Homo sapiens: one gene and its partners. The protein of the gene in region 1 purifies or fractionates together with the protein of each later gene. This does not show direct contact. Each region holds a gene or a part of one and is shown in the gene's direction. Other genes may lie near its edges.

Evidence for each region.
Region 2: the proteins of REPIN1 (region 1) and KCTD2 purify together in Homo sapiens (affinity purification with mass spectrometry; 2 studies listed by BioGRID and IntAct, with this or other methods). This does not show direct contact.
Region 3: the proteins of REPIN1 (region 1) and NME8 purify together in Homo sapiens (affinity purification with mass spectrometry; 2 studies listed by BioGRID and IntAct, with this or other methods). This does not show direct contact.
Region 4: the proteins of REPIN1 (region 1) and POTEB2 purify together in Homo sapiens (affinity purification with mass spectrometry, with the first as the bait; 2 studies listed by BioGRID). This does not show direct contact.

What each region holds. Positions count from the first base shown.
Region 1 is NC_000007.14:150,364,559-150,371,838, forward strand, and holds the start of REPIN1 (DNA-binding protein REPIN1), read left to right. Parts: upstream 1-4,263; 5' UTR 4,264-4,344; coding exon of another isoform or gene 4,345-4,383; exon of another isoform or gene 4,384-4,475; intron 4,476-4,531; exon of another isoform or gene 4,532-5,112; 5' UTR 5,113-5,153; coding exon 5,154-5,310; exon of another isoform or gene 5,311-6,669; coding exon 6,670-7,280. UniProt on the Homo sapiens protein: Sequence-specific double-stranded DNA-binding protein. Binds ATT-rich and T-rich DNA sequences and facilitates DNA bending.
Region 2 is NC_000017.11:75,057,220-75,064,243, forward strand, and holds part of KCTD2 (BTB/POZ domain-containing protein KCTD2), read left to right. Parts: intron 1-2,290; coding exon 2,291-2,386; intron 2,387-4,900; coding exon 4,901-5,026; intron 5,027-5,798; coding exon 5,799-5,828; 3' UTR 5,829-7,024.
Region 3 is NC_000007.14:37,844,126-37,851,601, forward strand, and holds the start of NME8 (thioredoxin domain-containing protein 3), read left to right. Parts: upstream 1-4,471; 5' UTR 4,472-4,603; intron 4,604-4,698; 5' UTR 4,699-4,931; intron 4,932-6,134; 5' UTR 6,135-6,141; coding exon 6,142-6,174; intron 6,175-6,252; coding exon 6,253-6,310; intron 6,311-6,503; coding exon 6,504-6,610; intron 6,611-7,476. UniProt on the Homo sapiens protein: Probably required during the final stages of sperm tail maturation in the testis and/or epididymis, where extensive disulfide bonding of fibrous sheath (FS) proteins occurs.
Region 4 is NC_000015.10:20,856,307-20,863,330, reverse strand, and holds part of POTEB2 (POTE ankyrin domain family member B2), read left to right. Parts: intron 1-1,841; coding exon 1,842-1,956; intron 1,957-2,115; coding exon 2,116-2,289; intron 2,290-5,113; coding exon 5,114-5,220; intron 5,221-6,557; coding exon 6,558-6,695; intron 6,696-7,024.

The sequences.
Region 1 (7,280 bases):
ATTGCATAGGGTTGTTGAGTGGATTAAATGAGATATGTATGTGAGGAGTTTATCACCATGCCTGACACAAAGTAAAGCCTCCCAAAATGTTAACTAATAAATTACTAAGTATTTAGGTAAAAACTGGAGCATCTTCTTATTGTACTGTTGGTAGAAAAATTCATTCTTCCGTAACTACTAAACTTGGCCTATATTCCACAATATGCTATAACCATATTTTCAGAACCCCCAAACTATATGATATGACAAAGACTTTTTTCATATTTGTGAATTTTATTTTATAAAGTATAAAAGTTGGGCTGGGTGCGGTAGCTCACACCTGTAATCCCAGCACTTTGGGAGGCCAAGGTGGGCCGATCACCTGAGGTCAGGAGTTCAGGAGTTCAAGACTAGCCTGGCTAACATGGCAAAACCCCATCTCTACTAAAAATACAAAAATTAGCCAGGTGTAGTGGTGCGTGCCTGTAATCCCAGCTACTAGGGAGGCTGAGGCAGGAGAATCACTTGAACCTGGGAGGCGGAGGTTGCACTGAGCTGATATTGCACCATTGCACTCCAACCTGGGTGACAGAGCTAGACACTGTCTCAAAAAAAAAAAAAAAGTATAAAAGTTAAGTAGTTAATGTACAGATTAGTCAACTTGACTGGGACAGGTAAAATAAGACCTGAATGAATGGAGTGGAGAGAATGAATCTTAAAGACAATCACGTTTTTAAAACATTGACAAGAAATTCTAAAGTTCATTTTGTTACAAAACTGAACTGGGGTCTACTTGCCCGGCGCAGTAAGAGGAAACACCAACACTGAGGTTGTGCATCCGGAGAAAGGAGCACATTTATTTGCAGGGCACCAAGCGAGGAGAAGTGGGTCATACTTAAGATACAACCTCTTCGATGGTTTACAAGCAAGGTTTTTTTTTTCCCCCAGTCGGAGTCTAGCTCTGCCGCCCAGACTTGAGTACAGTGGCATGATCTTGGCTCACTGCAACCTCCGCCTCCTGGGTTCAAGTGATTCTCCTGCCTCAGCCTCCCGAGTAGCTGGGATTACAGGCTCCTGCCACCACGTCCAGCTAATTTTTGTATTTTTAGTAGAGACGAGGTTTCACTGTGTTGGCCAGGCTGGTCTTGAACTCCTGACTTTGTGATCCGCCCACCTCGGCCTCCCAAAGTGCTGGGATTACAAGCATGAGCCACTGGGCCCGGCCACAAGCAAGTGTTTTTAAAAGCAGGGGTAAATTTCAGGAAAGGAGAAGTTATGGGCAAAATCGTGAATTGATACATGGAGGTTATGCACTGGTTTAGCCTCAAAGGGCAGGGTATTTTGAAGGAGGAGCCTTAAAGGTCATACATGAATTCAAAGACTCTGATTTGTGATAAGTTAAGGAAGCAAAGCTTTGCCTAAAACCTTGGGGTTAGCAGAAAGGAATGTTCAGGTCTGGTCCAACTTCCATCAGGATCCTCAGGAAGAAATTTAGAACAAAGAACAGCAGAGCTTAGTCCTCAGTTCCCTCTTGTCTGAGGTCTGCAGGCCAGGGCATCCACTTGGGAGGGGGGCCCAGGTTTCTGAAGAGCAACTCAGGGACATATATTAAGATGTTATCTTTAGTTTCTATAGGGAACCAAACATTTTGTGACTGTAACTTCCTTGTTTTAAGCTACAGTTACCTTCTTGTTTATTAGGTTGCTAGCTGGGTGCCTGGAATTTCCCTTGAAGGAATTCAAGATTTTCCTTTATTTCCATGCTTGCCCCCTCCCCACTTCCTGCAGGCCTGTAAGAGGGGTGCCGGCTCCATGTCAGTTTGGAAGAATAAATGAAGTGATTCTAGCCAAGAAGTTATGAAGAATAAAAAAACCCAGAATCTTTGTGTAGGGGAAGTACTTAAACTACCAGCTACCAAAACTTATTTTCTGTGATAAAACTGCAGACATTCAATGTAGTTTTAGGTTGCGGGTAGCCTCTCTAAACATAACTCTAAAGGCAGAAACCATAAAGGAAGACTGCTAAGTTTTGGCACATTAAAACAAAACTTTCTCGCCGGGCACGGTGGCTCATGCCTGTAATCCCAGCACTTTGGGAGGCCAAGGCGGGCAGATCACGAGGTCAGGGGATCGAGACCATCCTGGCTAACACAGTGAAACCCCGTCTCTACTAAAAATACAAAAAAATAGCTGGGCGTGGTGGCGGGCACTTGTAGTCCCAGCTGCTCGGGAGGCTGAGGCAGGAGAATGGCGAGAACCTATGAGACGGAGCTTGCAGTGAACCGAGATCACACCTCCCTCTACACTCCAGCCTGGGAGACAAGCCAGACTCCATCTCAAAATAAATAAATAAATAAATAAATAAATAAATAAATAAATAATAAAATAAAAATAAAACAAAACTTTCTTATGCTCGCTTCAGCAGCACATAGACTAAAGCAAAACTTTCTCACATCAACAACTGAAAAGGTAGGCCGGATGCAGTGGTTCACATCTGTAATCCCAACACTTTGGGAGGCTGGGGCGGGAGGATCGTTTGAGACCAGCCTGGGCAACACAGTGAGACCCCATCTCTACAGAAGAAAAACATTAAAATAAAATAATTAGCTGGATGTGGTGATGTGATCCTGTAGTCCCAGCTACTCAGAGGCCGAGGTGGGAGGATTGCTTGAGCTCAGGAAGTCCTGGCTTCAGTGAGCCATGATAGTGCTACTGCACTCCAGCTCTGGTGACAGAGTGAAACCCTGTCTCAAAAAAAAAAAAAAAAAAAGTTAACAAGTACGAGGAAACACGTCTGCAACAAACATGACAAGTCTTTAATACCTGTACTTTATGAGTGCCCCCCAAACAATAAACCAACTCCCCAACTTTTAAAATGGGCAAATAGAAAAGTGGGCAAATGGACATAAACAAATTCACAAGAGAAAATAAAACTGGCAAAAAATAACCATGTGAAAAAACAATCCAGCTAACTAGTACTCTAAGAAATGCAAGTACAAAAGATGAGAAATAACCATTTCAAACTAAATTTTTTTTTTAAAAAAGTCTGTGTTGTCAAGTATATGGAAAATGGGCATTTCTCAGGGAAAACTAATACGTTTTCCTGGAAGATAATTTAGAAAACATTTAAAAAATATATTCCTTTTATACAGCCATAAATAATCATGTTTAAAAGAATATCTAATAAAATGGAAGAAAATTCACAAGATCGTGTTAAGTGAAGAAGGCAGAATACATCTTCGCAAGGCATTATTCCAATTATGCCAGACATGCCATGGATATACGTAGAGAAAACACCGGAGGCAACATACCAAAATATTAAATGTAATTGACTCTACGAGGTAAAACTGAGTTTTATGTTCCCCTATTTCCTATTTATGCAATAGATTTAAAAAGTATTTTTACGACTAATTATACAATTCAAAAATTGCCTGTGTTGAAAAGCATGAAAGTACATGAAATTGTACTACCCTGGAAACCCCAGGAAGTGTTTAGTTTGGAAAGCCAGGGCCACCTGCTAGTGGGTGAGTCATGGGCACAGGCTCGCACCTGCCACCGCAGACGCCACACAGGCTGCTGAGCCTTTCCAAGCGAAATGCCCCACGTGCGCCAACGGCCACCTCGGCCGTCGCCCCACGCTTGGCCCGCAGCCAGAGGAAGCCCAGCAACTTCTGCTCTTTCTTAATTTCTAGAAAAGAGTGAAGAGAGGCCTTTTCAAAGTTCGCAGGATCGGGCCTTTTTGTGCTCCACTTTGGAACAAATCGGAAGCTAGGGCCTTCCAGGTGCGCCACCGCCGTCCCGGGACCGCCGCGGCCGCAAGCGTCCGCACTGCGGCCGGGGTGCGCGGCCTGAGAAAGGCCCGGGCAACGACGCTCCGGGGGCTTGCCGGAGCCCTCTTTGAAGTCTCCCGACGGGCTCCCAGCCTCTCATAAGGCAGCTAAGGCCGAACACCCCGGTGACCATAGGCCAGCCACGCGGTCGCCCGGGGACGCGCGTGCTCCGCAGGGACAAAGGGTCGGGAAACTTGAGCTCCGGCCAGTCCCAGAGAAACCCGGGCTGGTGGTCGCCATGGCAACGGAGTCCGACCCTCCGAGGCCTGCCGCCCTGGCGCGGCAGTGGCTTGAGTGACCCGGCCCGCTCTTGGCGGGGGCGCCCGCGCCCCGGCCCCGGCAGTCCCTCCCCGCCCCCAGGCCGCGGCCGCGGGAGCCGGCGACTGACCCTCGGCAGCTCCTGTAGTCACGTGGCGCTGGGAACCCGGCGGGGGGAGGTTGGGGACGGGCCTGGCAGTTGTGAACTCGAACCTGCCGCTGTCGCCGCGGCGGGGCGGGGAGCGAGAGTGGGCCGCGGAGGCCGGCCTTCGGGCTCCATGGACGGGCGCCGCGTCCCTGCACAGCCCGCCGCAGAGGTACGGCCGGGGCAGGGGCGCGGGGCCACCGCGGGCCCGCGGGGGGCCGCTCCACCTGCGGGGCGCGTGACCGTGAGTGTGCGCGACCGTGTGTGAGTGCGCGGGGGGGGACGCTGCTGGATCTGCGGGGGTGGGGGAGCGCACCTGCGCACAGGCTCCGCGAGCTGCGCCGTGCGTGGGACCCGAAATGGCTCACTCGCAAGAACGGGACCCGTGTGCCCGGGAGCGTGGACGGAGGACACGCATCAGTACAAAAGGGCGGTGTGGGGCTTCTGCCACCCGCGGCCAGCCGCGATGCGGAAGGGGATTCTGACGGAGTCGTGGTCACACCAGCTGGCCCTGCGCAGCCCCATGGGAAATAGGCCTGGAATTCCTGTCGGGAGGAGGCTGGGGGAAGGGGAGCCAGCAGGGATTCCAGAGTTCCTGCCATAGGCCGGCCTTTGGCCATCAGGGAAAGCCCAGACTCTGGCCACAGAATGGAGAATTCGTTCCGTGACCTTACCAGGGAAGAAAGTGACCCCGAAAGACAGCAGTGTGCTTCCTTGTTGAAGGGGCACATTCATTTATTAATCCAATGTCCATTAAGGTCACTCTGCCAGGCAGGATGTGGGGCTTATGGCTGGTGCGTGTGGCTTTGTGGGGGGAGGGGTTGTGGCTGGTGAGGACACAAAGCTGACTGCCCTAGAGGAGCTCAGAGCCTCACTTCTGTTTTCTCTTCCCTCCCCACAGGTAAGGCTGGCCTCTCTGCAGTCAGAGGTCTGAGCTCTGCCATGGGGATAGGGGTGTCTTTATTACTGCAGTTTTCTCTAACACCTGGGGGCTACCGGAGTGTGGGCCGAAGCAGGCGCTGCAGCCGCGGAAGTATCCCCAGGAACATCCCCAAGAGGAGCTGGAAAAAGCCTCATCCCCAGCTCTGCAGTCTCCAGGGTAGAGTCTGGCCTTTGCTGTGCTCCCAAACCACGCCACAACAGGGGTGCACGGGCGTCCCCATCCCGGCGGAAGGAAATGGCCCTTTCTCATATCCTGGGGTCTTCCCTGTGCACAGTCTGACACTGGGAATGAGTGACCTTTGTGTTCCCTGAGAAGAGAGAGTGCGCTCTAGGGAATTTAGAAGGATGTGTCTGGAGCTTGTGAGCAGGCACAGAAGGGCCCTTAGGAGCCTAACTGCTTCCTTCCTCCTTCCGCGGAGGAGGCTCCTGTGCAGGAATCTGGGCTCCCCTGAGCTGTGGAAGAGCTGAACATGGGGCAGCCCCTGGCGAGGTTGGGGCAGGACCGGGCAGGGGACTGAGATTGCAGTCTCATCTTCCCTCCCCTTCTATTGCCCCAGTAATCTCCAGCACCCCGAGGGAGGCAGAGCCGGTGATCAGGCCCCGAGGGCAGCAGGCTGTGGGTGTTCCTTGGATTCAGGGAGAGCCTTCCTTCCTGCAATGTCCTAATTTGTGTGGGTGGAAGAGGGCAGGCGGGCAGAATGGGGGCACAGTCTGGGCAGGCGGTGGTCTGGCGTTAGACTGCCGGGAGTAGCACCCAGGGCTCTGCTCCTGTTCCCCGAGAAGGGCTGTTCTCACTTGTCCTCCAGCCTCCTACGGAGACTGCAGTTAGTGATGCTGAAAGTGCCTCCCCTGTGGGGCTAGGAATGAAAAGCTATAGACACCTTTTTCTCTGAGATCTTTGCAAACCCAGGCGCTTTAGAGGAAAGAACACTGGCCTGGGAGTTTAAAGACCTGTTCCCTAGTCTTGATTCTGCTGTTGGCTTACTGTGTCACCTTGGGCAGGTCTCGTCATCTTTGATGTCTCACAGTTGCTTCATCTGTTAAACAGGGAGCTCAGTGTCTGTTTGTCCAGCTTCTCAGAGTTGCTGTGCAGCTCGGATGTGGCATAGGAAACAGCAGACACAGGGAGAGGGCAGCATAAGGCACTGTAGGGAGCAGTGGCCACATTTTCTGGTGAGTCCTGTGGCAGGAATGTTTGTGCATTCAGCACTGGAGCATTTACTCCCTGTCTGACACTGGGGTAGCTGCCATGAGGGGGATTCTAGTATCAGAGTCCCTCCCTTCTGGAAGTTTCCAGGGCAACAAAGACATAAGACAAACATCCTTGAAATGTTATCTAAAAACCCAAGATTGAAATAATACATACCACACAAGGAAACAGGAGAGTAGTCTAGCTCCATGTCCGGGGCTCTAGGGGTTCATAGATGGCAGCTCCTGTCCGGGGCTGAGGTTGGGAGGGGAGAAACAGGGGCAGAGTGAGTTGGTCTCTGGAGTGACTGTGCTTTTCCACCCTCAGCAGAGGAAGAACCGATGCTGGAACGTCGTTGCAGGGGCCCCCTGGCCATGGGCCTGGCCCAGCCCCGACTCCTTTCTGGGCCCTCCCAGGAGTCACCCCAGACCCTGGGGAAGGAGTCCCGCGGGCTGAGGCAACAAGGCACGTCAGTGGCCCAGTCTGGTGCCCAAGCCCCAGGCAGGGCCCATCGCTGTGCCCACTGTCGAAGGCACTTCCCTGGCTGGGTGGCTCTGTGGCTTCACACCCGCCGGTGCCAGGCCCGGCTGCCCTTGCCCTGCCCTGAGTGTGGCCGTCGCTTTCGCCATGCCCCCTTCTTAGCACTGCACCGCCAGGTCCATGCTGCTGCCACCCCAGACCTGGGCTTTGCCTGCCACCTCTGTGGGCAGAGCTTCCGAGGCTGGGTGGCCCTGGTTCTGCATCTGCGGGCCCATTCAGCTGCAAAGCGGCCCATCGCTTGTCCCAAATGCGAGAGACGCTTCTGGCGACGAAAGCAGCTTCGAGCTCATCTGCGGCGGTGCCACCCTCCCGCCCCGGAGGCCCGGCCCTTCATATGCGGCAACTGTGGCCGGAGCTTTGCCCAGTGGGACCAGCTAGTTGCCCACAAGCGGGTGCAC
Region 2 (7,024 bases), on another chromosome or scaffold:
CTGGGATTACAGGCGTGAGCAACCATACCCAGACTCCTATTTCTTAGAATAGTATTTTTTGTAGGTGATTGATCCTGGTGCATTTGAGAGCACAAGTGGTTTACTTTGGAAGGGAGAAAAAAGAGGCAGTATAATGGCATCTTAAATACCTGGGACTTTGACAGCTGTGGCCAACATCACAGATCTTTTGTGATACTCTGAATTTTGTACTTATACAATTGGTTTCCAAAATAAGTGGTTACAACCAATTAAAATCTTCAGAGGATTTGTACTATATGTAATATGGAAGGAAATCTTTGAAATCCTTAGTACTTTGGTTAATGATAGCTATACCTCTTTTTTTTTTTTTTTTTTCCTCGAGGCAGAGTCTTACTCTGTCGCCCAGGCTGGAGTGCAATGGCGCGATCTCAGCTCGCTGCAACTTCTGCCTCCGGGGTTCAAGCAGTTCTCCCGCCTCAGCCTCCCGAGTAGCTGGGATTACAGGCACGTGCCACCTCACCTGGCTAATTTTTTGTGTTTTTAGTAGAGATGGGGTTTCACCATGTTGGCCAGGCTGGTCTTGAACTCCCAACCTCAGATGATCCGCCCACCTCGGTCTCCCAAAGTGCTGGGATTATAGGCGTGAGTCACTGCACCCGGCGATCGTTATACCTCTTTTGGAAGAAAACATAGAAGAAAAAATACAGCATTGTCGGCCGGACACAGTGGCTCATGCCTGTAATCCCAGCACTTTGGGAGGCCTAGGTGGGTGGATCGCCTCAGGTCAAGACCAGCCTGGCCAACATGGCGAAATCCCGTCTCCACTAAAAATCCAAAAAAATTGGCTGGGCACAGTGGCTCATGCCTGTAATCCCAGCACTTTGGGGGCCCAAGGCGGGCGGATCACCTGAGGTCAGGAGTTTGAGACCAGCCTGGCCAACATGGTGAGACTTCGTCTCTACTAAAAATACAAAACTTAGCCAAGCGTGGTGGTGGGCGGCTGTAATCCCAGCTATTCAAGAGGCTGCTGAAGCAGGAGAATCGCTTGAACTCGGGAGGCGGAGATTGCAGTGAGCTGAGATGGTGCCATTGCACTCCAGCCTGGGCGACAGAGCGAGACTCTCTCAAAAAAAAAAAAGGAAAAAAAAATAAAAAATTAGCTGGGCGTAGTGGCACATGCCTGTAATCCCAGCTACTCGGGAGGCTGAGGCAGGAGAATCGCTTGAACCAGGGAGGTGGAGGTTGCAGTGAGCCAAGATCACCCCACTGCACTCCAGACTGGGCAACAGAGCGAGACTCCATCTCAAAAATAATAATAAGGCTGGGTGCGGTGGCTCATGCCTGTAATCCCAGCACTTTGGGAGACCAGGGCAGGTGGATCATGAGGTCAGGAGTTCAAGACCAAGCCTGGCCAACATGGTGAATCCCCTTCTCTACTAAAAATACAAAAATTAGCCAGGCTTAGCGGCAGGCGCCTGTAATCCCAGCTATTCGGGAGGCTGAGGCGGGAGAATCGCTTGAACCGGGGAGGCGGAGTTGCAGTGAGCTGAGATCGCGCCACTGTACTCCAGCCTGGGCGACAGAGTGAGACTGTGTCTTAAAAAATAATAATAAATAGGCCGGGCGCGGTGGCTCATGCCTGTAATCCCAGCACTTTGGGAGGCCGAGGCGGGTGGATCACGAGGTCAGGAGATCGAGACCATCCTGGCTAACACAGTGAAACCCCGTCTCTACTAAAAAATACAAAAAATTAGCCGGGCGTGGTGGCGGGTGCCTGTAGTCCCAGCTACTTGGGAGGCTGAGGCAGGAGAATGGCGTGAACCTGGGAGGCAGAGCCTGCAGTGAGCCAAGATTGCACCATTGCACTCCAGCCTGGGCGACAGAGCGAGACTCCGTCTCAAAAATAAATAAATAAAATTATAATAATAATAAATAATAATAATTTTACCTTATTTTTGACTTGGGGAAATGGATTAAATCTAAGTTTGTTGGCATAGTTGCTCAAGCATTCATCCCTCTGAAGTTCAGAATTATTTTACCTTTTTTATTCTTTCACTCTTTGGATATGTTTTTATTGAAAAGCCACAGTATGCTGGCTTGTGGTCACTTAAAAAGAAAAACATTTTTTAAAGAGAAGGGAAAAAAAGAAACGCCACAGTACTATTTGTAAAAGGGGATAGTGGGTGGCTGCCAAGAAAAGATTTCCAAGCAAACTCCTTTTCAGTGTTTATTCATTTGAAGAGCCTCCTTGGGGCAGCTGCAAACTGTGGTGTCCTTGGTGCTGTTCTCAGTCTGCGCCTGGTCATTGCAGGGCCCCGTGAAGCACGTGTACAGAGTCCTGCAGTGTCAGGAAGAAGAGCTCACGCAGATGGTGTCCACGATGTCCGACGGCTGGAAATTCGAACAGGTACATCTCTTAACAGAGCAGCAATCCCAGGCCCCGTTCAAGGGGTCTGCAGCTCTTCAAACAATCAGTGTGGATGGCCAATTAATAACCACGGGAGACGGCTACGGCCAGGTGGGATCCTATTCCAAAACATGGGCAAAGAGCCATTTGGTGGGCACTGCTGGCCTAGTGGTGCGTGAGGAGTTGGGGAAACAGAGGAGCATCATGTCTTAGCTTCACACGCAGACTTTCCAGGGGAGCCAACGAGCAGTTTAGGCTTGAAGTGCCTCAAAGCCTTTGGTTTTTGTTCCCTCACAGGGATCGTAGAATGAGTCCCTAAAGGAGACTGGGATTCGACAACAATCCTTCCATTTCTTTTCCCAGGGTCAGAACTTTTTGGTTCTGAATGTCTTATGTAATCCACCGTGAAGAGCTTGGTGAACAGCTGTGCTAGGAAGGATCAGGCGCCATGGGAAGTGTGGTGCGGCCGTTTCCCCTACTTCTCTCCGCCTCGTGCTTACGACTGAGCTATCAAAACAAAGCTATGACAGTTGGAGCTTCACTGTTCTCCTCCATTAGATGGCAGACTTGTTAAATTCTGTTGCCTTCAAAACATAGGAAGGCCAGAGCGAATAGAGTAAATACAATTTTTTTTTTTTTTGGAAAGTCAAATCCCTTTCTTCATTCCATCCCTTTTAGACATGGCATTTAAAACAGACATTGCTACATCACTAACTTCCCACAAGCTGTGGTGTCCACTGGAAAAATGTAGTCCTTGATATTTCTATTTCACATTCAAGTGATCCTCTGCCACTTATTAACTGGTTCACTTCAATTTCAAAAAGCCAAAAAAGTCCTCTAACATAAGCCTTCCAAGGTGATACTTTCAGAAACCAGGGTTGGAACTAACCAGACAACAGCGCGACAGCCAAGACCAGCTGCTCTTGATGCCCTTTTCACTTCTGTGTTGTCCTGGTTGAAGTTGGCAAAGAGCAGCTGGCCGGCGCCGGCCTCCCCGCTCTGGCTCGCCAGGTTCATGGCTGGGCGCGTGGCGAGTGGGCCCGGCCAGGGAGGGCGCGCGTGCGAGGGCGGGTCAGGCTGCACTCAGGGTCTCGGTCGCCGCCACTCGCCACCCTGGGATCAACCGCCTGAGTAAATATGATTTTATACGGATTATGCCTACTTATGTGTAGAGTTTTAACAGGTCAACAGCTGTCTCACCAGATGCTTACCTTCTAAAAGAAAACTCACACTTTGCATTAATGCTGTTATCTCACAGATCAAGTGCAAAGCTGTCTCTGCCTTCAGAGCCAGCGGTGATTATTTCTCACACTTAGCTTCCACCACGGAATCCACTCTGCCTGTGTCTGTCATCCTGGTTCTTACTGGGCATGGGTTGTAAAACGTCGCCAAGAGTTTAATGCCCTCCACTCCAGAAGTATTTTTCCTAATATGAGCTCTTAAGCAAAGGATTTTTTTAATGTATTCTTTGTGAAACTAAAATGAATAATTTCTTGTTAATTTCTCATCTTATTACTGTCCCGTGGGAAGACGGAGGGTGTTCCTATTGCCTCCCTTCTGGATGAGGAAGTTTGTTTCAGACAGGCGGAGGCGCCCCCAGCCCCATCCTACCACAGTCAGCCATGCCGCCCATGTGAGGCCTCGCCTGCTCACTGGGATGCCCTCACCCTCTGCCTGAGCTGCTCCCCTGCGTGTGTATTTCCTCTTTAGAATTAAATTCTGAATTCTATTATCCAAAAAGGTTAAAAGTACCAGCATGCTGGGCACGGTGGTTCACACCTGTAATCTCGGCACTTTGGGAGGCCACGGTGGGAGGATTGCTTGAGTCCTGGAGTTCGGAGACCAGCCTGGGCAACATAGCGAGACCCCCCTTCTCTATCAAAAATAAAAGAATTAGCCAGGCATGGTGGCTGTAGTCCCTGTAGTCCCAGCTACTCAGGAGGCTGACGTGGGAGGATCACTTGAGACCAGGAGGTGGAGGCTACAGTGAGCTGTGATTGCACCACTGCACTCCAGCTTGGGTGACAGAGCTAGACCCTGTCTGGAAATAAAAAGTACCAGCAGCATATGACTTCCAGTAGCTGATCAGTGATTGGCTCGGTGCTTTCCAGAGCCTCCTGTCCCCAGTCTAGGGCTTCTGCTGATAGAGGAGCCAGCTGTGTGTGTGACTGAGGCAAATGTCCATTTTGTTGGCAGATGCGTTCTGTCTTCCCTTGCTGTGCTCGACGGGGCGTGGGCATGTTAATCCTGCCGCTGACGGGGGGGGACTTCAGAGCTTGGGTGAGGGGACAGTGGAGCTCATACTCTTCCTCCTGGGGAGGCCTCACCAATGATGCCCTGATGAAGAACAGGCCCATTTCTCCCCGGGGGCTTTGGTAGTCACAGAGAACTCATATAAAGAGTTAAACCTTTGATAACTTAAAAGTTCAGTCGGAAGAGGGGTGATTTGTGTAGCACTTTCGAAAGTATGTTAAGATTGCCACATGAATGTTCACTGTATTCTTGGTTCATCAGCTCATCAGCATCGGATCTTCCTATAACTACGGCAATGAGGATCAGGCAGAATTCCTCTGTGTTGTCTCCAGAGAACTAAATAATTCTACCAATGGCATCGTCATAGAGCCGAGCGAAAAGGCGAAGGTAAGGAGCCCCTTCCCTGGGCAGTTGCCTCTGGCTTGCTTGTTCGCACCCCCTCCGTGGGCTTTTCCTGAACTCTTGCTCCTCACTTCTTCCCTGGCCTTCTAGAGCCAGCGTTGCATTTTCCCCTCGTTTTGTTATTTTTGACTGTTGTAATTTAATTGGGATTTACGGAGCACTGACAGGTGTTTTTAGTTAGAAAATATGAACCTAAAAAGGGTAGACTTTCTCCATCCTCTGCCAAATCAATGAAAAAGAAAAGCTGGTTGCCACTAATTACTACAGGGTAGGATTTCTGAACTCAGACTTGGAAGGTATTTTGATTTATTCTTTAAAACTGTGCTTTTTTCACTGCCTCAGGAGAAAAGGGTGTTTTCTTACCTTGGTGACCTTTACCTCCCTTAAGTTCCTGGAAAACTGTTTCTTTTCCCTCCACTGTGCACCCCCCTCACCCCCAACACACACACACACACACACACACACACACACACACACACACACAGCTTCTAAATCGTGGATACCAGGTAAGCTGGAACCACTTCCTTTCAGTTGGCAAAGCTTTGGTCCAACAGCATATAAGCTTTAGACCCAGCTGTGCCCAGCAAGAGAGTGTTTCGCACCAGAAGCACTGCGGGTGAGGCTGCGGCTGCACCCCTGCTTGCTTCCTGGGATGACAGGACCATCATGCCACTCATCGGGTCCAGTGGAAAGCATCCCCCGACATCTCTGTCTTTCCCTCAGCAGCCTCAGCCTCTCCCCCATCTCCAACTTTCAGATTCTTCAGGAGAGAGGATCGCGGATGTAAACTAAGACCCCGAAAACTCCAGACCTTCAGGAGAGCAGTCAGCAGAGCCCCTCTGTGAAGTGAAACCTCACTCCTGTCCAGTGACCGAGCCACTGCAAAGCACAGCTGATCCTGGCCCCCTGTGAAGAAGTGTTCTGGTCAAAACTAAAGGAACTCCCTCCCCACCTGCAGGACTCCGAAGACAGTGCGACTTCTGGCTGCAGAATACCTTTTCAGAAACCTGCTTTCATTTGCTTAGCCAGTATTAGAACAGATCTTTACAACAGCAGCTGGGCTGGGTTCCCAGTCGGAGCCTTTCGGGGATCTGGGGGATGAGGGCGGAAGGCCTAGCTCCTTGGAAATGGCCTGTACTTTAAGGACGCTGGAGCCAAGAGGATTGTTCCCGTGCCGTGCCATGGTTTCACCCTATGTGTGCCACAATGGACGTTAGCAGCTGCTTCGGAACACCGTCCCTCCTATGCACCCTCCAAGACGTGCAGCAGATGCAAAGGGTTCTAGCTGCAGTTTGTCGAATTGAGGTTTTAGGTAAAGCATAGAGTTGCCAGAGTACCCCGCATTCCCATGAATAGAGCCTCCAAGGAAAGGGAGGATGGGGTGTCCTTTGTTGTGGTTGGAGGTTGGTGATCATTGCTCTGGATTTGGGGCTCCCGGCTGCCACCACATGCAGCTTTGCCTCACCTTTCTCCAGCAGCCGGGACCCTCTGGAGAGCTTGTTTTCCCTCCAAGAAGAGGTTTGAGACAGGCGGCATCCTGCACTGAGTCAGACAAGTGGGAGCTGTAGGAACTGCACCTGCAGCCTCTTCTTACTCCCCATTGACCCTGTCTTCCTTCCCTGGCTTTTTCAACTGGACCAAAGATGAAGGCACTTATGGACCCTTTGATGGCTTGGAGTGGGGAAGGCTGTTTCTTTGAAAGTTGCCAAATGTGTTATGTTGTGTCTCAGAGAGAGTTATTTCTGTGACTCTCTTGGAAATGCCTTGACTGAATGTGCAATATTTGTGTCTCTTGGTTTCTAACCTTGGCGGACCTGCTCCCCTCTGTACTGTCCCCAGTGGTATGTATGTATGTGCTAGGCAGTCTGGGGACCCCCTGTGTCTCTGACCACCCCCCTGACCCCCGCCATTACTTTCTTTTCTGGAGTGCCATGCTGGCGAGGATCCGGATGCGGCAGCACCCTCTTTCGGGCTGCATCCACA
Region 3 (7,476 bases), about 110 Mb from region 1:
TAAAATTGGAATTCAGAATCCGTGATTTTGATCTAGTGGAGATAGGAGAAATTTTTTAAAAGTTATATAAAGTTCTCCTGGATAGATGACTAGCTTACTTCTATCTCTAGCTGAAGTGATAAAATTAAAGTAAGTCCCTATACCATTTATTTTCTTTATAGTCTACTTAATTACCTGGACCAGATTTCTTCTTTTTTTAAGCATTGTGTCTTTATTTTATTAAACTTTAAAAATATTTTTCAACTTTTATTTTAGAAATGAGGGGTACACGTGCAGATTTATTGCATGAGAATATTGCATGATGCTGAGGTTTTGGGTACAAATCCCATCACTCAGGTAATGAGCATAGTACTTGGTAAGTAGTTTTTCAACCCACGTCTCCCTCGTTGTCTCCCACTTATAGTAATCTGCAGGTCTATTGTTCCAATATTTATGTCCATGTGTGCTCAGTGTTTAGCTTCCACTTACAAGGAACAACATGCAGTATTTGGTTTTCTGTTCCCACATTAATTCATTTAAGACTATAACCTCTAATTGCATCCATGTTGCTGCAAAGGATATGATTTCATTCTTTTTAATGGCTGCGTAGTATTCCATGGTGTATATGTTTATATACACATTTTCTTTATCCAGTGTACCATTGATGAGCACCTGGATTGATTCCATGTCTTTGCTATTGTGAATAGCTCAGTGATGAACATATGAATGCATTGTCTTTTTGGTAGAGTAATTTACTTTCCTTTGGGTGTATATCCAATAAGATTGCTGGGTCAAATTGTAGCTCTCTCCATTTTAAATTCTTTGAGAAATCACCAGACAGATTTCTTGGATTCAAAAATTAAGAATTTTGTTTATCTTCATTAAAGAGTACATAAATGTGTCAAGAATATCTGCTATTTCCAAATGCACTAGCTTGCTATCTAATTTTAAAGTGTTTATGCAAAAATGGTGATGCTAGGTGCCAGAGAGGATTTCAAGAGGAAGAGAGCAAAGCGAAAACAATTCTACAATCCAGTTCTTATTTTCTGGGTCTTCATATATATTTAGAAGTCATGAGAACACACAAATGAAACAATTAGGCACTAATAAACTTGTGCCCCAAGGAAAGCAAATTGAGCACTATACATAGTGCTGTGTGAGGGTAAGAAAAGGCAGGTCAATATAAGAGAGTACCTTTAATGAATGTTGAAAGATAAAGTCAAATATATTTAAGGAGCAAAACAAACTATTAGGTCCCTTCAAAAGTAACATCTCTCATAGGCTTTTTGGCAGTTATAGCTTACACTCTCCTATAATAAAATATACATTGTCTTGTAACCAACATTTTCAGAGAATTTGCCCTTAAAGTCAATTCTGGGCAGACCCAAGTCAAAGGCTCTTCAGGTTTATGTTTTAAAGCCTCAACATTCAAAGTTTTTGCAATTAGTAGTAATGATGTAAAAAAACAAAAAAACAAAAAAAACTAATTACACCTTCCTTCCATGTATTGGCCACTGGTAAATGTTTGTTCTAATTTGAGAATACATTGAAACTTCTTGCATCAAAGTGTTATATGAAGAATTTGCCTGAAATATTTGCATGAGCATTTCACCATGTGAACTATTGTGTTGAATCAAAGAAGAATCAAAAGTCAGTTTACTAACAGTCTGACTCTGGTGAAATAGCAATTATAGGAAATACATAAAACTTCTTTGAAAATAGCAGATGGTTTTAGACCCTTGAGGAATCGCCACACTGTCTTCCACAATGGTTGAAATAATTACACTCCCACCAACCGTGTAAAAGCGTTCCTATTTCTCCACATCCTCTCCAGCATCTGTTGTTTCCTGACTATTTTTAATGATCGCCATTCTAACTAGTGTGAGATGGTATCTCATTGTGGTTTCGATTTGCATTTCTCTAATGACCAGTGATGAAAAACTTTTGTTCATGTGTTTGTTGGCCTCACAAATATCTTCTTTTGAGAAGTGTCTGTTCATATCCTTTGCCCACTTTTGGATGGGGCTGTTTGTTTTTTTCTTGTAAATTTGTTTAAGTTCCTTGTAGATTCTGGATATTAGCCCTTTGTCAGATAGATGGATTGCAAGAATTTTCCCCCATTCTCTAGGTTGCCTGTTTACTCTGATGATAGTTTCTTTGGCTGTGCAGAGGCTCTTTAATTAGATCCCATTTGTCAATTTTGGCTTTTGTTACCATTTGACCCAGCAATCCCAGTACTGGGTATATATCCAAAGGATTATAAATCATTCTATTATAAAGACACATGCACATGTATGTTTATTGGAGCACTATTCACAATAGCAAAGACTTGGAACCAACCCAAATGCCCATCAACGATAGATTGGATAAAGAAAATGTGGCACATATATACCATGGAATACTATGTAGCCATAAAAAACGACGAGTTCATGTTTTTTGCAGGGACATGGATGAAGCTGGAAACCATCATTCTCAGCAAACTAACACAAGAACAGAAAACCAAACACCGCATGTTCTCACTCATAAGTGGAAGTTAAACAATGAGAACACGTGGGCATAGGGAGGGAAACATCACACACTGGGGCCTGTCAGGGGGTGGGGGGCTAGGGGAGGGATAGCATTAGGGGAAATACCTAATGTAGATGACAGGTTGATGGGTGCAGCAAACCACCATGGTATGTGTATATCTATGTAACAAACCTGCACTTTCTGCACATGTATCACAGAACTTAAAGTATAATAAAAAAAAAAAAAGGAAAGAAAATTGCAGATGGTGAAGTGAAGGAGTACTACATGTCCTGTCTTGATAGGATATGATCCTGGTCAAAAATCCTTCTGTAGGTAGCCGTGCTCATCTATTAGGTCCACTCCAGGGATGAGGATCCCTACAAAAAGGTTCATTGTGTCCCTCTCTACTCTACAGTTGCTTTCTGTATCTCAGCCTGTGGATTAATCAGAAACTATTGTGAAAAATTATTTCCAGATGCTGCAAGTGGGAGGGAGGAAGGAAAGTAAAGAGAAAAAGAACGAAAGAGAAAGAAAGAAAAAGAAGAGGAAGAAGAAGAAGAGGAAGAAGAAGAGGAAGAAGAAGAAGAAGAAGAAGAAGAAGAAGAAGAAGGAGACGGAGGAGACGGAGGAGACGGAGGAGACGGAGGAGGAGGAGGAGAAGGAGGGGAAGAGGAAGGAGAAGAGGAAGGAGAAGAGGAAGGAGAAGGAGAAGAAGAAGAAGACGAAGGAGACGAAGGACACGGAGGAGACGGAGGAGACAGAGGAGACAGAGGAGGAGGAGGAGAAGGAGGGGAAGAGGAAGGAGAAGAGGAAGGAGAAGAGGAAGGAGAAGTGGAAGGAGAAGAGGAAGGAGAAGGAGGAGGAGGAGAAGAAGAGGAAGAGGAAGAGGAAGAAGAAGAAAGAAGAAGAAGAAAGAAGAAGAAGAAGGAGAAAGAAGAAGGAGAAGGAGAAGGAGATGGAGGAGACGGAGGAGGAGGAGAAGGAGGGGAAGAGGAAGGAGAAGAGGAAGGAGAAGGAGAAGGAGAAGAAGAAGAAGAAGAAGGAGATGAAGGAGATGGAGGAGACGGAGGAGACGGAGGAGGAGGAGGAGAAGGAGGGGAAGGGGAAGGAGAAGAGGAAGGAGAAGTGGAAGGAGAAGAGGAAGGAGAAGAGGAAGGAGAAGGAGAAGGAGGAGGAGAAGAAGAGGAAGAGGAAGAAGAAGAAGAAAGAAGGAGAAGAAGAAGAAGAGGAAGAAGAAGAAGAAAGAAGAGGAAGAAGAAGAAAGAAGAGGAAGAGGAAGAGGAAGAAGAGGAAGAGGAAGAAGAAGAGGAAGAAGAAGAAGAGGAAGAGGAGGAAGAAGAGGAGGAGGAGGAGGAGGAAGAGGAGGAAGAGGAGGAGGAGGAGGAAGAGGGAGAGGAAGAAGAGGAAGAGGAAGAGGAAGAAGAAGAGAAAGAAGAAGAAGAAAAAGAAGAAGGAAGAAGAAGAAAGAAGAAGAAGAAAAGAAGAAGAAAAGAAGAAGAAGAAGAAAAGAAGAAGAAAAGAAGAAGGAAGACGAAGAAGAAGAGGAAGAGGAAGAGAGAAGAAAGAAGAAGAAGAAGAAGAAGAAGAGAAGAAGAAGAAGAAGAAGAAGAAGAAGAAGAAGAAGAAGAAGAAGGAAGAAGAAGAAGAAGAAGAAGAAGAAGAAGAAGAAGAACAAGAAGAAGAAGAAGAAGAAGAAGAAGAAGAAGAAGAAGAAGAAGAAGAAGAAGAAGAAGAAGAAGAACAAGAAGAACAAGAAGAACCAAACCAGGGTAGATGAAGACAAAGTTAAAAAGAAAGAAAAGGCTGGTGCTGGCAGAGAGCCTTCTGCTCCGATTTGAGGTGTATGCATTTTATGCTGTAAAGCGTGGCCAGTCACAGGAGGATTCAAAGGCGAGGAGAGATATGATCAAATCTGCACTTGGGAAAGCGCACCTTGGTGCGCATCTGGGGATAGAGGAACGTAGGGATGGGAGGATGGGGGATGGGAGTTTGGGGATGAGGCAGCTGAAGAACAGAGTCTTGTGATGGTGGAACCAGGACTTCGTTGTTCCTTCATTGTGTGGGCAGAAGAGGTGGAGGATTTTAGGCGCCACCTGGTCTTGTCCCCACTGCCCAGGTATAGCTGCTGTCTGGAGCAGGGGCCTCGAGACGCCGCTCAAGTCTCACGGGCAGATGGGTTGGACAAAACATTGCCCCCCTTCTTCTTCCCAGACAGGCAGGGAATCCCTCTTCTTCCTTTTGCTGAATCAGCTGGAGAAGAAAGCCCAGCAGGAGGCCTGCTAGCCTCAGCCTCGGGCCCTACCAGGGTCCTAGGTACTGGAATGGAACTTCGCCGAGGTCACCGCTCAAACGGCCACAACGAGGGAGCCGATTTAGATCCTCTGGGCCTGTTCCTTCCTTTTCTTTAAACGTCCCAGTCTAGCTTAGAGGAGGACCTGTTTTGTGTAAGGCTTGCCGGAGCAACCAGCACCTTTCCTGGAATACAGTCTTGTTTGTGGCTTTTCCTTTGTTGTACGCTAGCGTGCACTATCGCCCGCACGCTGACTGACCCCTGTTCTACACCGCCCCTGATACCACTGAATAGGGAGTTTGAGAAGTTTATGTCGTGCCCCAGAAAACACTAGTGGCCTTGTTCTCAAGATTAAATATCCTTAGAGCAGCCAGATCTGAAGAGGGACCCCAGAAAGATCCACGGGCATGTTCATTTGTTTGCAATTGATAATATAGGAAACACTTTCTAATATTTCAGGAAAACAAAACCTTTAAAAAAACCAGACGACGTGTAACTCCTAACATTCTTACCTTGCTTCAGGACTGTTGGGAGGATAAGATAGTGTGGCAGCTATAAGCATTTAGCATAGAGCCTAGCATACAATAGTCCTTCCATGACATTAGCTTCTCTCTCCCCAGCAAAGATGACACTGCATAATCCAATGTACAGTGGGGAAATTTTTCACTAGTACATTAAGATGTTATTTGCAGTTAGAAAGAATGAATACTGTAATCCCAGCACTCTGGGAGGCTGAGGTGGGAGGATCACGGGTCAGGAGGTTGAGACCATCCTGGTTAACACGGTGAAATTCTGTATCTACTAAAAATACAAAAAAAATTAGCCCGCCGTGGTGGCGGGTGCCTGTAGTCACAGGTACTCTGGAGGCTGAGGCAGGAGAATCGCTTGAACCCAGGAGACGGAGGTTGCAGTGAGCCCAGATTGTGCCACTGCACTCCAGTCTGGCAACAGAGTGAGACTATGTCTCAAAAAAAAAAAAAAAAAAAAAGAACAATGAATAAGACCTAGTATTTGCTAGCACAAACAGGTGACTGCAGTCAAAAAATCTAAATTGTACATTTTAAAATAACTAAAAGAGTATAATTGGATTGTTTGTAACACAAAGGATAAATGCTTGAGGTGATGGATACCCCATTTACCCTGATGTGATTATTATGCATGGCATGCCTGTATCAAAATATCTCAGATTTAAATACACAAATATTTAAGTACATAAATACAGAGATACATAAATATATACACCTACTATGTACCCACAAAAATTAAAAATTGTTTTAAAAGATGTTATTTGCATGCATAAAGAAAATGTTATTTAAATTTCCTACTTAAAAATTTTTCTTTCTTTTTCCTATGATAGTAGATAAATGGCAAGCAAAAAACGAGAAGTCCAGTTACAGGTGGGTCTGACATATCAACAATTCTTTATCTGGTGCACTAGTGCTTGAATACCTTTTACAGTGCCTTCCACTTTGCAGACAGTCATCAATAATCAAAGCCTGTGGGATGAGATGTTGCAGAACAAAGGCTTAACAGGTATAAGGACTCCCCGGCTGTCTGGCCACCTGGGGTTTGACCCGGAGCTCCTCCTGGCACCCTGTCCCTCTAGAGTCCCCACTTTGACCAAGAAATCCTGCAGTGCCTTTGCCCTGGCCATGGCTCCAGATTGGGATAACTGCTATCCTAGATTGGTAGACTTTGTTATTTCATAAATATCATCATCTTCTAGTGATTGATGTTTACCAAGCCTGGTGTGGACCTTGCAGAGCAATGCAACCTTTATTCAGAAAATTGAAAAATGAACTGAACGAAGACGAAATTCTGCATTTTGCTGTCGTAAGAATTTTGTTTTCATTAAACCACTGTTTTCACATTATATTAAGTTTTTAAGTATCCTCTAATACTTTAAGTATTGTCTTAATTTAAACAACCTGTCAGTTCTTCAAAATAGATAGTCTTTACTTGGCAGTTTTACTATATATTTAATTCTACTAGATCTGAGAATGAATATGATTTTTATCCCATTCTTATAACGTCGAGGCTATTTACCATGACTGTGAAAGTCAGAAAAGTGTAATAATGGACACATCTATTGTTCTGTTTCCTTTCACCTGACCACATGTTCAGTGTGTGTCCTTTAGAATAAGGGCTACAAAAGCTGTTTACTGGGTATCATTGAGTAGTGCCCTGGCATTAACCCAGTTACCATATTTTCCAGTGGCAATGATTTTTCCTCATTTATTTGCTACCTACTTGCAATAAGGGATTAAAATATTATAGCCAAACACATTTTACTGAATTGTACTGTTTTTTCAATCTATTCACATAAAATGATCAACTAATTAGAATTTCGTTGTCCAACATGGTAGCTACTAGGCATAAGTGACTATGGAGCTCTTGCAATGTAGCTGGTCCAACTGAGGAGCTCAATTTTTAATTTTAATGAATTTAAATCTGGATTTTCAAACTGATACTCCATTGAGTTATTGTAAAACTTTTAAAATCTGGGATAACTTGAGTATGTGAATCTACTACTTAACTGTAAATGTTATTAAAGCTAATTAAGGATTAATTATTTCTGATTAACATTTAGCATATGAATTAAGACATACTCAAGTGTAAGAGACACATTAGATTTTAAAAATTTAATATGGAAAAAGAAAGTGAAATATGCCATCAATAATTTTATACATTGATTACAT
Region 4 (7,024 bases), on another chromosome or scaffold:
ATATATTTATGAAAACTAAAATAGCAAATATAAATGATTGTTACTATCGCAAATGTATTGCTCTACTCAACAGGAGTTTTCTTTTAAAAATATTGAACTTCCAACCTATGTTTATCCATTCTTTCAATCCGTTTAGTCATCAAACATAAGCCAGACACCTATTATATGGCAAGCATATTCTGCTATCTCTCAGGATCCTTCCACCTTTGAAAACTTCATGTTTACCTGCTGCGCCTGAGCAAGCTGAGAGAATCAAAATTGGGGCATTAGGACTTAATCTCAATTGAAGCTTTTCCTCCCTCCTTTCAAACAAAAGCACTTCTGAAGGTGGAAAATAGTAAAAGATAACCCTTAACTGCCCTTTTGAAAATGTATAAGACTTGGGTAAACACTGTTTTAGCTGTTTTAAGAACTTAAATGTGGTACATAAACAGCATGGAATACTATGTAGCCACAAAAGAAAGAACAAGAGCCTGTCCTTTGCAGGGACATGGATGGTGTTGAAGGCCATTATCCTTAGCAAACTAACATAGGAAGAGAAAACCAAATACTGCATGGTCTCACTTATAGGTGGGAGCTAAATGAGGAGAACACACAGACACCTAGAGGGAAGCAACACACACTGGGGCCTATCAGAGGGTGGAGGGTGGGAGGAAGGAAAGAAGCAGGAAATAGAACTAACGGGTACTAGGCTTAACACCTGAGTAATGAAATAATCTGTACAGCCAACCCCCTTGGAACACGTTTACCTATGTTAACCAACCTGCACATCCTGCACCTGTATCCCCGAATGTAAAAGTTGAAAAAAGCTCCACAAATAGTTTCATAAATCCATTTTAAAAAGAGAAAATTTATAACAGTCTTAAATCCTAATATGAATGATTGGAAATATCTGATGTACATACGTTGTATAAATCTAAGTATTGAAAAAAATGAGCCCATGCTATTCATTTGAATTTCAAGATTTCTTTGGCTTAAAGTTTTTGAAAACCAAAGTAAGAAATAGATTATTTTAGAAAATTGTTTTTGTTTTCACCTCAGCCCTCTTATTCCATAGTTCTTTTAAGAACTAAAATTTATCTAAATGCTAGTCATCTGACTGGAACTGCCCCAGACCTGTTATATTATAACATATTCTACTTAATGTAAGGCACCAGGGATTGTATGATGCCCCATTATTTTATGTCTCACTAAGAAAATTATTTAAATGCTGCCAATTATAATTATAGTAAATCATGAATTAATAAGTGGTATTTCAGTGTAAGAAATGTTAAAACATGGAGACAATGATCATCTTAGACTCAATAAAATACAGTACAACGCTACCTGTAATCTTTAAAATGTACCTGAAAGTGTAGGTATAATTGTATCGTTTCACTTAATTCAAATGTTGTCTTTAGTGGTATTAGTAAAAATTATAATATCTTACAATTTTTGAGCTGTTATTTGTGTTAGGAACTATTCTATATTTTGTGTAGAGTCTTATTTAAGCATTACAGTGGTTTCCTCTGAGAAACTGACTATTTTCATTCCCATTTTATTGATGAGGAAATTGAGACACAAAAAGGCTAAGCAACAGCTAGGAAGCGACAGAGCTTCAAGTAGGATTCCAGCCCAAGTTGAATGTCATCCAAGAGCTATGCTCTTTCTATTCAAATAGGCTGCTCTTTCATTAATACAGTGACTAATGAGAGGTAATAAGTAGTGTGCTTTCTTCAAAGGAAAATTGAGTTTGTTTTGAAGGCAGAGTAATAGGCTATTCAGTGTTTGCAACTACATGAATCATTAATGTGGCATTAGCTAGTGCACTACAATTTCCTGAAGTCTTCTCACTCTCATAGGACTGCTCTACATTTGGCCTCTGCCAATGGAAATTCAGAAGTAGTACAACTCCTGCTGGACAGACGATGTCAACTTAACGTCCTTGACAACAAAAAAAGGACAGCTCTGATAAAGGTATGCAGTAGTCAACTATATCAGCGTGAGATGGGTTTGATTTCAATAGATAGCATAAAAATGAGTTTTCTCATTTAAATATAACTAGTTGGTGAAAGCTGTGGAATGTTATTTTGAATTCCTAGGACTTATAATTTGTTTTTGGTCTAATACTGACAGGCCGTACAATGCCAGGAAGATGAATGTGTGTTAATGTTGCTGGAACATGGCGCTGATGGAAATATTCAAGATGAGTATGGAAATACCGCTCTACACTATGCTATCTACAATGAAGATAAATTAATGGCCAAAGCACTGCTCTTATATGGTGCTGATATTGAATCAAAAAACAAGGTATAGATCTACCAATTTTATCTTCAAAATACTGAAATGCATTCGTGTTAACATTGACCTGTGTAAGGGCCAGTTTTCCGTATTTGGAAGCTCAAGCATAACCTGAATGAAAATATTTTGAAATGACTTAATTATCTAAGACTTTATTTTAAATATTGTTACTTTTAAAGAAGCATTAGAGGGTACAGTTTTTTTCAGTGCACTTGTGGTTAATGCTTTTTAAAAAAAAAAAACACTGAATTTGTAAAAGGTAATACTTTTTTTTTTTTCAATTTTTCCCTGCCAAGTTTTTTTTTCCCTAACAAATGTAAAATGACAAAATTTGCCCTGGAAATAGGTTTTACATTAAAACTCCAAGAAAACTTAAACATGTTTCAGTGAATAGTAATCCTGCTACTTTGGCAAATTCCTAAAAAAACACTAATAGATATGAGGTGATGTATCTCTCAGTGGCAAGGCTTAAGATATTTCTGATTGCTCATGAGGCAGAATTGGAAAGGGAAAAATGCAGCAATCAGAAATACCAAGGCCAACTTGGAAATTAGGTAATGGGGGAAAAGACCATGAAGAGGTTTTTTTTTGTTTTTGTTTTTGTTTTTGTTTGTGTGTGTGTGTGTGTGTGTGTGTGTGTGTGTGTGTTGTTATTGTTGTTCATTCATTTGTTTCCTTTATATGGTGAGACAGGGTTCTTTTCCATTTTAGAGAATGACAGTTTTCAGTTTGGGAGAGGGAGTTAGTGGGTTGTAAACTGCCTAGAGATCAATTTTAGGAGGCCTCTGAGGAACCAGACTGGCAGTGAATATGTGGTAATGTAGTGGGAAACCCTTGAGTAGAAGGAATAACAAGTAATTAACCAAATTAGTATCCTATTCTGGTAGAAATGGCCAATTAGAGTCTCAACTCTGCTTTCAATTCTAGAATGTCTTGATGGGAAGGTGGGAGATAAGGGGCTTATAAGTAAAAAGATCAGGTTGGATTTTGAGTTTACTAGACCTTGTTCTACTCTTACCGGGGAAAATTTTGTGGTGTTTTCAGCAAATGAGTCTCTCTCCTACTCTTTCCTCTTTTTGGCCAAATCCTCAAATGATAAAGGGAATTGTTTATGTGATGAGAGATGAGACTGAAATAATTGTCTATTGCACTAGCTTCCAGCTAGAGTTGTGCATTCCAGTTACTTCAGGAAAATTTTTAAATAATCTTCAAGTCTAGGTTTTCCCCTGAAGATTTTGATAGAGTAAGTCTAATAAAGCCTGGATATGTATGTTTAAAAATGTTTCCTTGAAGCCAGGCATGGTGGTGCATGGCTGTAGTCCCAGCTGCTAGGGAGGCTGAGGTGGGAGGATTGCCTGAGCTTAGGAGTTCTAGTCTAGCCTGGTCAACATAATGAGACCCTGTCTCTAACAACAACAACAACAAATTTCTCAAAATCCGGATACACTCCTGCTTAACCACTGAATACATAAGTGTAATATGTAAATTCTTATATCTCAGAAACTTCAGATATTTCTAGAAGAGTTGGAGTTGGATATGTGCTAATTCCTTTAAATCTTTCCTTTCCAATAACATTAATCTAAATTTTTGTTTGTTTGTTTTTGAGATGGGGTCTCACTCTGTTCCCCAGGCTGGAGTGCAGTGGTGCGGTCACAGATCACCACAGCCTTGACGTCCCTAAGCTCTGGTGGTCCTCCAATCTGTTTTTGTATTTTTTTTTTTTTAGTAGAGATGAGGTTTTTGCCATGTTTCTCAGGCTGATCTTGAACTCCTGGGCTCAAGTGAATCACCCACCTCAGGCTCCCAAAATGCTAAGATTACAGGTGTGAGCCACCATTCCTGGCCTAGTCTGACTTATCTCTGTCGTTGGGACATTAAAATAAATATTATTGGCACTATCTATCAGCTTACAGAATAATACCTTTTCCTTTCTACCATCAGTTATTCACTGCCATTCAGAAGGTCTTTAGAAATTTGCAGTGAGTAGTCTTCCAATAAGTAGAGGATGGCTCTCTCAGGACTTTGTGTCCCTTTGTTCAATCATTCAAGTGCTTAGGTCAGTAAGTCGTTTTTAAGAGCAGAGTTTTCTCAGAATTGTAGCAAATTCTAAACCTTTTTTGTCAATTGAAGCTATATTGTGGGCTATCCAGTATGTCTCTTAAGTTTGTAGAGCTTTGGCTTAATCAGGATGGCAGGTTTAAACACTCAAAACCATGGAGTTATTAAGAATACAGATAGGAAATCTCTTAGTTTCAGTAATCCTATGAACTGATTATCTATCTAGTTAACAATCTGGAAAAATTAAATACAAATAGATTTTAAATGAATAAATGTTGGAAAAAATTCTTGAAATGGGCAGTGTGAGTATTAATAGCAATATTTATTGCATGTTGGAGCTTGAACTTTGGTAAAACATGTGAAACTAAAGAAATATTTTACATTCAAATTCTTGCTTTATACACAACAATTTTGTCTTAGGATTGGATAATAATAGAGATAAAAGATACAGCCCCTGCCCTCAAGAAGCTTTTTGTTTAAATGAAAAAAAAAATCATCCAAAAGTGCCATGCCAAATGCTCATTTAGAAACAAAGAGTCTTGGAAACAGTAAATGTTTAAAGTGAGTTTTTGAGATGATCAGATTTAATGTGGTGAGGCAGAGAAGGGATGTTTCCAAGGGAAGGAGTGGCATGTGGGAAAGTACAGAAGAGTGAGAAGGAAGCGACCAAATTTTATTTACTTTCTGTGAGTGTAAGTCCATAAGCTTCTAGTTCAGTTGAGAGATACATAATTTTTTGAATTACATATTGTTTTTGTTTTATATTGTTTTACAGTGTGGCCTCACACCACTTTTGCTTGGCGTACATGAACAAAAACAGGAAGTGGTGAAATTTTTAATCAAGAAAAAAGCTAATTTAAATGCACTTGATAGATATGGAAGGTATGGTTATTTCTTTTAATCTGTGTGTTGTTCTAGATTGATAGCAGTCACTCAAGTCATAAATAATAAATTAATAAGATCAAATTATACTTATTGGGACATAGTGATCAGTATCAACACAAATCAGTTAAGTAGAAAAGCAATTATTTGGACTGGGCAACATAAAGAACTGTTTTAGTAGGATTCATCTTCTCTTATTATATTGACTGATGTTATTTGTTGTATGATGTTTTTGGTTACATGATCTTATGTTAGCTAAAGGGATTTCATATTAATTTTATGAAGTTTGAACTTTAACTTTCAGTTTACTTTATGACTCAGTATTGAACTTTTTAACCCTTTCTAGTAGGTTTTAACCTCTGTATCTTATATGCTTTTCCACTAAATATGCTGTATTAAACATAAATAGGAGTTGAAAATCCTTTTGTCTTTTCAATGACTCTGCTTTAAGTTGCTTTCTTTGAAGAATATTAATGTTAGCTTATCCCTACATGACAATTAATTGCTATTCCCACATACTGTGGGTTCAACAGCTTTTTTCCTTTTTTATTTCCAGTGTATTTTGATGTTTTTATTTTTAGTTGGTATGGAGAGAGGGAGTGAAGATAGTTTTAAGTGGATACACTTTTCCTTTAATGAAGGCAAGCTGTAGGTGGGTGATAAAGAGAAAAGAGCTACGCTTTGGATTCACACAAGACTGGGTTTAATTCCTAACTTTCTTACTTGCTACGTGTGTGACATTGGGAACGTGATTTACCACCCAATATGTTGTCATATGTGAAAAGTAGGAGAATATATCCTTCAAAGTTGGCTGTGCATAAGCAAGAAAGGTACATGTGGCATTTAATTCAGTGCATAGCACATGCTTATTGGCATCATTAACTGAAACTCCTGTGACTACTATTCTTACCATTATTATTAATATTACTGCTTTCAGCATGCAGAGAGCTCTTATTTATCTTAGCCCCTAGCTAATTTTCTATTACAGCATATCAGTCTAGGGAAGCTGTGACAAAATCTTCACTTAAATCTTTGTCCACTTCAGATAAGTGGCCCTAGCATTGTTTCTTGCCCATCAAAGGACTTTAAATTAGTAGCTTCTGCTATGCAATACCCCACTGAGATAAGAGGTTTCCTTTTTGTCCCTTCCTTTTAACCTTGGTGGTATTTTACAAAGATGAACTCTTGAGCACCCAAGATGCTTATGTCTTTTAGCGCATGTAAATGTTTGATTCTGCATGGACAGGCAAGATGTCAAATTGGTAAAGTATATCAAATTAGCTTTTAAAATAACTTTATTACAGTTCCTAAAGGAGAAATTATCTCTGTAATTTTAGAACTGCCCTCATACTTGCTGTATGTTGTGGATCAGCAAGTATAGTCAATCTTCTACTTGAGCAAAATGTTGATGTATCTTCTCAAGATCTATCTGGACAGACAGCCAGAGAGTATGCTGTTTCTAGTCATCATCATGTGTAAGTGTTTACATGAAAAGGCTAGTTAATGCTAAATTGAGGTTTAAAATAATTATAACAATTGCATCTTACATATCAGGTGAGATGTCATAGTTTGGTTCAGGTAGTTTTAGAGTGGCAGTGAGTTAGTCCCCTGCATCAGCCAGAAATCAGACAAAAAGCAAGACAAGTTAGAAGTACCAATGGGTGCAGGATTCTTTACCTCAGGACTTTTAAGACCTTTATCCTTAGAGATCCCAATATTGTTCATTTCATCCAAGTATAACACCTATGCATGGCATAAAAAAGAGTATCACATCTTTGATTTTTCTGATTAGTTATTTGGGTCT